Homo sapiens: one gene and its partner. The protein of the gene in region 2 interacts with the protein of the main gene of each other region in a biochemical or structural test. Each region holds a gene or a part of one and is shown on either strand. Other genes may lie near its edges.

Region 1 (3,604 bases), on a different chromosome or scaffold from region 2:
CTTCCCAGCACAGCAGTAAACATCCACTCAGCTTCAGGCAAACCTTAAGGCATGGCAGCCGTAGCTAATTCACAATGTGTCAGTACCCCAGATGCTTTACCGCCCTGCTCCCTGGCCCTGCCCCCAAGCTTTCTCCATCCCTACGTGGTTCTCCCTCATCTAAGAAGCCATAAGGATCCAGGGCCTTCTTACCCCCTGGGCTGTCAATTTCTGGCTCCTCCTTACAGCTAAAGTCTCCATAGACAGAGGTGGGCTGGACTCCAGGTTCATTGAGTAGGTACCCCTTCCCATCCACGTTTGTTGGCTGCCACTCCGACTGCTCCAAGAGCTGGGGACAGAAGAGCAAGAGGCTATCAACTCCCTTCCAGTGCAGACTCACCCTGTGGCCCTGCCCTCAATGAGCCAGCTCCTCTCAGCCAGTATCACACCCTTGGCCATTTTCACAATCTCAGATAGGATGCAGAAGTGCACTGCAGTCAGGACAAGGGCCCGGGAGGGAGGAGGCAGAAATGCATGTTGGCACTGGTCCTCAATTCATTTTCCCACCCCTCTCACACCCACTCTCTGGTATAGCATCTCCACGACTTCCCTCTCAACTGTGTAAGGACATAGTAAGAGGGAATGTGGCTTAAAACAAAGGTTAGCATAATAAATCAAGAAAAGATGACTAGAAAAGCTAGAGATAAGGAACGACATCCATGTCTCAATTTTTTGGGCTAATGGAACAGCTGGCGTACAACTACTGCAAAAACTTTTTTTTGAAATGGAGTTTTGCTCTTGTTGCCCAGGCTGGAGTGCAATGACACAATCTCAGCTCACTGCAACCTCCGCCTCTCAGGTTCAAGCGATTCTCCTGCCTCAGCCTTCAGAGTAGCTGGGATTACAGGCATGCGCCACCAGGCCCAGCTAATTTTTATATTTTTGGTAGAGATGGGTTTCACCATGTTAGTCAGGCTGGTCTCAAACTCCTGACCTCAGGTGATCCACCCACCTTCGCCTTCCAAAGTGCTGGGATTACAGGCATGAGCCACTGCCCCCGGCTGCAAAAACTATATTCACTTTCAAAACTGAAGCAGAAAAAAAAACCTGGAGGATAATTTGCTAACTTTTTCTATAAAGCCATCATCATATTAACGGATCCTAAAGGCTGATTATTGAAGCCTGATGTGCATTTCCCGAACTAGCAGGGCTGGGGCATGTTGGGGCAGAGGATGCAGGCCAGGGACCCATCGCTGATAGTGCCTGACTCACAGAGCTGTCTGATGCCCCAAGGCTTGCTTCAGGACGGCCTGTCAGAGGCCAGGCCTCCCACCTGCCTTCCCTTCCCATGGTGGCTTTCCCACCAGTCAAGCCACGTGAATGTGGCACTTGTGGGACAATGCAAGCAGCCAGGTGACAACAGCAGCTACCCATCCTCTGATTTGGAAGCTTCACTGGTTCTCTCTCCTCACTGAGAAACGGTCACTTCAAGAGTGCCCAGGTAGGAAGGGGCTTTACCTTCATGATGTCCTCAGGTAATTTCCCTTCCTCATCCTCATCTGTTGTAGCTGTGGATGGGGAAAGCAGAGAGGTTGGCTGGCAGTCAGCCACACTCACCCTGCAGTTCCAGTTCCAGCCCACCAGATCCCCCTGCCCTTTCTCTGTCTCTCTGTCTCTCTGACACACACACACACACACACACCCTCCCGGTGGACCTATCTGCCATAGAGATTCCAGAACAGGACCCTGGCCTGGTGACTCAGCCTCTCAAACCCTGAAGCCACGCCGCTTCCCACCCCTACCCTACTTCCTTCCTCACCCTCAGATGCTGGGCTACAGAGGAGGAAGGAGAACCAGCACCCCAAAATGCAGCCCCTGGCCCCCTTCCCTCCTCTCACCAGCCCCCACTGTACTGCAGCCCACTCTGAACTGCCTTCCTAGTGTCCCCGTCGCTTGCCTCCCCCTATGGTGGCTAAGACTGGGCAATGCCCAACTCAATCAATTCAGTGCCAGGTGGAGTTCTGATCATCTTTTCTCTCTCAGGAAGCCCTTCACAGGACCCAGACAGTCAAGCAGGCAGGCCAGGCCCCAGGAGCACCAACCTTCAGAGGTGGAGGGCATGGGTGACACCTGGAAGTTGTACAGATCACTGGTGCTGTCCGGCACAACTTCCACTGGGATGTGCCAGTCGGGGAGAGTGCTGCTGACAGCACATGGCGACAGTGCTGGGGAACAGCAGAAGCCACAGGTCAAGGTTGTGTGCTTTCTTAGTTTGCAAGACATCGAGCGCCCTCCGACCAACCCTGCAGCCTGCACTAATGGGCCACCATGTGCCAGCACCATGCCTCCAAGAGAAAGAGTCATCCCACTGACCTGTGGGGTCTCCTGCCAGACCTGGACCAGCTCACCTGGAGTCAGGGCCTGCTCCACCTCCAAGTCCTGCATGTAGCCTGGAACTGTGTAGCTGCTGTGGTCATCAGGCAGAGTGGAGCTGCTGAGTCCATCAGAGAAGGTATCAGGGCTGGAATCCCCACATGACTGTCGAGGGAGAAAGCAGCTTAGGCCCAGGCCCACCTTAGCATTTCTTCCACTGCTCACCCTGGCCCACAGGTGACCAAAGGCCTGGCTGCTTAGGACCACACTCACCTTCCTCTTGGCCTTGCTCTTAGCATCTCGGCTGGACTTCGACTTTCTTTCTGTGGGGCAGACGGGCTGTCAGCCTTGGTGCAGGCTCTCCAGCCCCAGCTGACCTCCTTCTACCCTCCCTCCCTGAGGGCTTCCCAAGGACCCAGAGTCCTTGGATACCTTTTCTCTGGTTCTTGGTGAGAGGTGGAAGCATCCGGTACACTCGCACAGCTGAGCTGCCCTTGTTCCTGCTCTGGTCTTTCACCTCCTCGATATCTGGCAGGGAGTTCATGGCACAGCGAAAGTTGGCCTTCCACGTCTTGGGATCTGGCTCCTTTTCCCCTGCTTTGTATCGGCCTAGAGGGCAGGAGAAAAAAGAGGATCGTCAGGGCCATGGGTAGGGATCCTCAGCTGCCCCTGGCCTGAAGGAGGAAGGCAAGGTACCCCTGACCTCTTATGCTACCAGAGAGCCACAGTGGTCAAACCAGCAGGTACTCCCGGTGACACTCTGCAGGTCCTAGGCCCTGGGCCTTCTCAAATGCCCAGGCTTGGCTTAAACACATCTAGCGGGCCTCAGTGAAGGGCCCAGCCAGAAGCACTAGAGTCCCCATATCCCCAAAGTGTACTATCTGTGTCTCAGACTATGCCCAGTCTTCCTCCTTGGGCTATCAGCAGCCAGAGGGTAGAGTGGGCACAGACTGGGCAGCAGAGAACAGTTACTAAATGGGTGGGCTGACTGTTCTGAGATGGGCCTAGAGCTCCATCTCTCAAGGATAAAGGAGGCCACCAACCACATGAGGCTTGGACCAAGGGCCTTGGTCAACACGAAGAAAAAGGCAGACCTGGGTCTCTTTCAGTGCCCTGGCTTACAGCTGCTTTTCACAGATGCTTTTGCCAGGGAGAACTTTCATCTAGCCACAAACCCCCTGAAGCCACACACTTTCTAAGATCTTGGCTTTTCCCTTTGAGAATTTGCTGAGATGATCGACTCTCTTCTCCA
Region 2 (4,044 bases):
AGATTTATTGAATTCTGGGGAGGTGATAACTAACAATTCCATGCAGTCAGATCATATAAAGAATGACATAGTTAATACACATGAATTGCATTTCCACTGATGTATTATCAGATTGGAAGGGATTTTGGTTGACATTTGTAATTGAGTTTGATACGGTAACACAGGGGCAAAGTTGGTTTGGTCAGCTTTGAAGCATGCAAAACCAAACTCGCCTGTCATCTAAACTGACGCAGTGTGGGGCCACCTTCTCCTATTAAGTGCAGTCCTCAGGGGATAGATGGATATCCTCATTTGTTAAAAGTTATATATAATGCTTTTGCAAAAAGCAGTTTTTAAAATGATGTGTCTGTCTTGAGTGTTAAATTACTTGTTTTAGTTTTGTAAATAGTGGTACAATGCTGGGGCCTTGTATGATTGGAGTGTTTTTGTTGAAGTTGGGGATAGTGTGGTCCCCGCTTTCCTAAATTTATTGATGGTTTGGTCTTATTTAAAGCAAATCTTAAGTGTATATCCAAGCTAAAATAATATTGACTCTGGTACATTTTAAATGAAAAAGCACATTATTCTCCCCTGTTAATCTATTTTTGGAATGTGATATTACTAGACTGCCATAAAGAAGAATAACCCCAGGAAGTACCTTCGCAGTGTAGGAGATGGAGAGACTGTGGAGTTTGATGTTGTTGAAGGAGAAAAGGTGAGGATGCTTTTTGTGTAAAGGTTTGACTTCAGTATGGAAATATTTTGGAGGTCTCATCCATTAGGATGGTGGCTCTAATGTGGATGGATGTGTTCAGGTGACCTCATGAACACAGGTGCATCAAGCCTAATGTTCTGGCTGCAGTTAGAGGGCAATCTCTTCAGAACAGTGAGGAACTGATATTTAGTCATTTCTGTGCACCCCTGGTCACGCAGTTGCGCCCCCCCCCCCTTTTTTTTCCTTAACTTTGTTGTTTTTTGCTTTGTTTGAAAATGTTCTGATTTCCTTTTGAAAGTGTTGAAAGTGTTCTGATTTCCTTTGTCACTATCAATATGTAATGGCTTTTGTAGGGTGCGGAGGCAGCAAATGTTACAGGTCCTGGTGGTGTTCCAGTTCAAGGCAGTAAATATGCAGCAGACCGTAACCATTATAGACGCTATCCACGTCGTAGGGGTCCTCCACGCAATTACCAGCAAAATTACCAGAATAGTGAGAGTGGGGAAAAGAACGAGGGATCGGAGAGTGCTCCCGAAGGCCAGGCCCAACAACGCCGGCCCTACCGCAGGCGAAGGTTCCCACCTTACTACATGCGGAGACCCTATGGGCGTCGACCACAGTATTCCAACCCTCCTGTGCAGGGAGAAGTGATGGAGGTAAGTTTCACCATCAACAACAGCAATGTGATAAGTTCTGGTAGGACTGTTTAGAGCTGTTAATTATATGGAAAGCAACTTGGATTCCTAGTAAGAACCAAAAGGATTAATTTATAATGTAGTCACAATTACTAGATGGTCTGTTTTGTTTGTTTTTTAACTCTTGGATTTATCTGGTTGGGTTTTTTTATTATATTACTGACCCAGTAGGCTTAATTTCCATTGTCTTTTTCAGGGTGCTGACAACCAGGGTGCAGGAGAACAAGGTAGACCAGTGAGGCAGAATATGTATCGGGGATATAGACCACGATTCCGCAGGTATGGTCCACGTAAACATGTTTCTATTAAAATTTCCTCAAACCCGTGTTAGGACTCAGCAATATCATGCCTCTCCTGCAGACTCATTTTTCTGTTAACACTTCACGTTTTCTTTCATCAGATGCCTAAGAGGTGAACCTATTAAAAACAGCTTGTATAGATGAGGTCTGCTTTATACATAAATTTTTTTAGAAAATGATGAGGGTTTGGAATTTCAAATTTTCTGTCCTTGAACAGGTAAGATAATATTTTAAACCACACCTTTTAAACCTGCCTCCTTGGTAGGGAGAAAGGAAAGCATTAGGAGTATCTGAATTGTACCATGGCATTAGTGAAGAATCAACAGTGTTATCACTTGAAATGGCATACATTATCTTCCACTAAACACTTCTCAGTTTAGATATGTACCCCCTTTTTTTTGGAGTTGGGAGTTGTCAGCTCAAAGTTGCAAAATGAAATTGCTCCACCAAGAATTTACATTCTGCGGGGGGAAATCCAGTCTGTCGTTAGACAACTATCTACTTGAGTGGGTATTAGAAATCTTATTAATAGATGTCATTATTAGAGTAATCGAGGAAAAATTCCATGAACCAAGCATATTTTAGTCCATGCCGTAGTATACTTTGAGGCAGTGTTCCCAGTCCCACGGTGGTAGGATAGGATGGTGTAATAGTTGTTTCTCTAAGGGTTTGATATCAAAGCATTGAGTTTTCATAGGTGATCCCCAAAAGCTGACAGGTACCTCTGAAGAATCAAACCAATACAGTAATAACGCATCTTAACTGATCACTTAAATCGCAACTTTTAAATCCCCAAATTTTTAAGTGTCAAGTTTATTATTCTAGAAGTATCCAACATATCCAAAATATACTGTGAGTCTATAAGAGGGGGTTTCTGTATATAGGTTTTTAAATTTTACCAAAGTTGGAGCACTTAGTGAAGTTTTAGGAACTAGGGAATCTAGTCGAGGTTGTATTACATGTATTTATCAGCACATGTACATTGAGAGTTTTGCAAGAGCAGCTGATGTCATCATATTTTTTGTATTAATATGTCTTGTCCTGAGTTTTCAGTTAAAAGAGCTGAGGTCCTAACTGATCACTACCACAATTGAAGATCTCTGATTCAGTTTTCTACCAGGAGATTGTGTTAGCCAGATGCTGGATGTTGAAGATAGATGGGTTTTTATTTTTCAGAGTAGGTCTAAAATAGCCTCTCATGGCAGTCCATCTGTTAAGTCCATGGGTTCCAGCAGCAGAATCTTTGGTTTACCTTTTGTTACACTGAAGAGCTTAAATGTTTTGCCTAGTTTCATTGATGTCCTTAAAAATAGCATAATTTTGTGTTTGTATTCAGTGCTTCAGTTCACCGTTGAGTAAATTGTTTGTCTTTATATTGACAAACAAGCTTGCGGTTGATTTGTCTCTTAGAAAGGTATCTTTGTCCATTGTTACCCCTCCAGTGCAGAGGTTTTTGCCTTTTGGTTTAAGTTAGACTTAATGTCTACGTGTTTCAATGTTTAGAATGCTCAGTCCTGCCAGATAGTTGCAGAAGTAACATAAAATTGCTTGGAAGTTATCAATGAATGCTAGACTTTCCAAACTGTGCAGGAATCTTTTGTTCAAATGAGAGTAAATGAAACATGCTGCCCCTAATGCATGGAATGGTGTGAAATTCTGACTGGTGTGGGTTCAAGAGCAAACTGAAAGGGAAATCTTAAGACAGAGTATAGTACAAGTGTTGCTGAAAATGAGACTAATAGTAGTAAGGGGAAAATGGGGGGTCAAAAAGGGAGGTTTTTTGTTGAGAAATAACATTTATAGGCTGAAATGCAATCCAGGATAACAGTTGATGGCAGGAAAGTGACTGCTGGAACTGTTTTCTTTCTCAGAGAGGGTAGGGTTTTGCCCACAGGTGAAAATGTTGACCTTTTGTTAGGAACCTGCCGTTTTCCTGTGTAAGAAACAAGAATACATGGGCACGCATGTGTTAATGGGAAGACATGGAAGCCTTTGGTTGCTAAATTGAGACGAAAGTAAAGAGGAAGTTTGAAAAGTTTGGGGCAAAGAACCCTCTAGAACAGAAAATAGAGATGGTAAATTTATAAGTAATAGGATAACGATCATAAATTAGAAGTGAGTTCACCCAGCTTGACTCTGTGTTTCTAGCCATTTGGGCATCAGGCTCAGGTTGGGCAGAGAGTTGGATTTATCCAGATTTGGTTTATCCAGATCTGGTTTGATTTATCCAGATCTGGTTTATCCAGATGAAGACACTGGGGTAGGGATTGGTCATATGATTAGTGGTAGACTTTATACTTGGATAAAGAGGGGAGAAAAGGGGAAAATGAGGGTTGTTTTTTTTTTTTTAAATTGT

What was found. The genes of interacting proteins can lie anywhere in the genome.
Region 1: the proteins of YBX1 (region 2) and IRF1 form a complex in vitro, tested with the Homo sapiens proteins (one study listed by BioGRID).

Annotation. Positions count from the first base shown.
Region 1 is NC_000005.10:132,484,170-132,487,773, forward strand, and holds part of IRF1 (interferon regulatory factor 1), read right to left. Parts: intron 2,962-3,604; coding exon 2,785-2,961; intron 2,676-2,784; coding exon 2,626-2,675; intron 2,518-2,625; coding exon 2,388-2,517; intron 2,205-2,387; coding exon 2,082-2,204; intron 1,548-2,081; coding exon 1,498-1,547; intron 329-1,497; coding exon 193-328; intron 1-192. UniProt on the Homo sapiens protein: Transcriptional regulator which displays a remarkable functional diversity in the regulation of cellular responses.
Region 2 is NC_000001.11:42,695,595-42,699,638, forward strand, and holds part of YBX1 (Y-box-binding protein 1), read left to right. Parts: intron 1-604; coding exon 605-694; intron 695-1,047; coding exon 1,048-1,350; intron 1,351-1,585; coding exon 1,586-1,668; intron 1,669-4,044. UniProt on the Homo sapiens protein: DNA- and RNA-binding protein involved in various processes, such as translational repression, RNA stabilization, mRNA splicing, DNA repair and transcription regulation.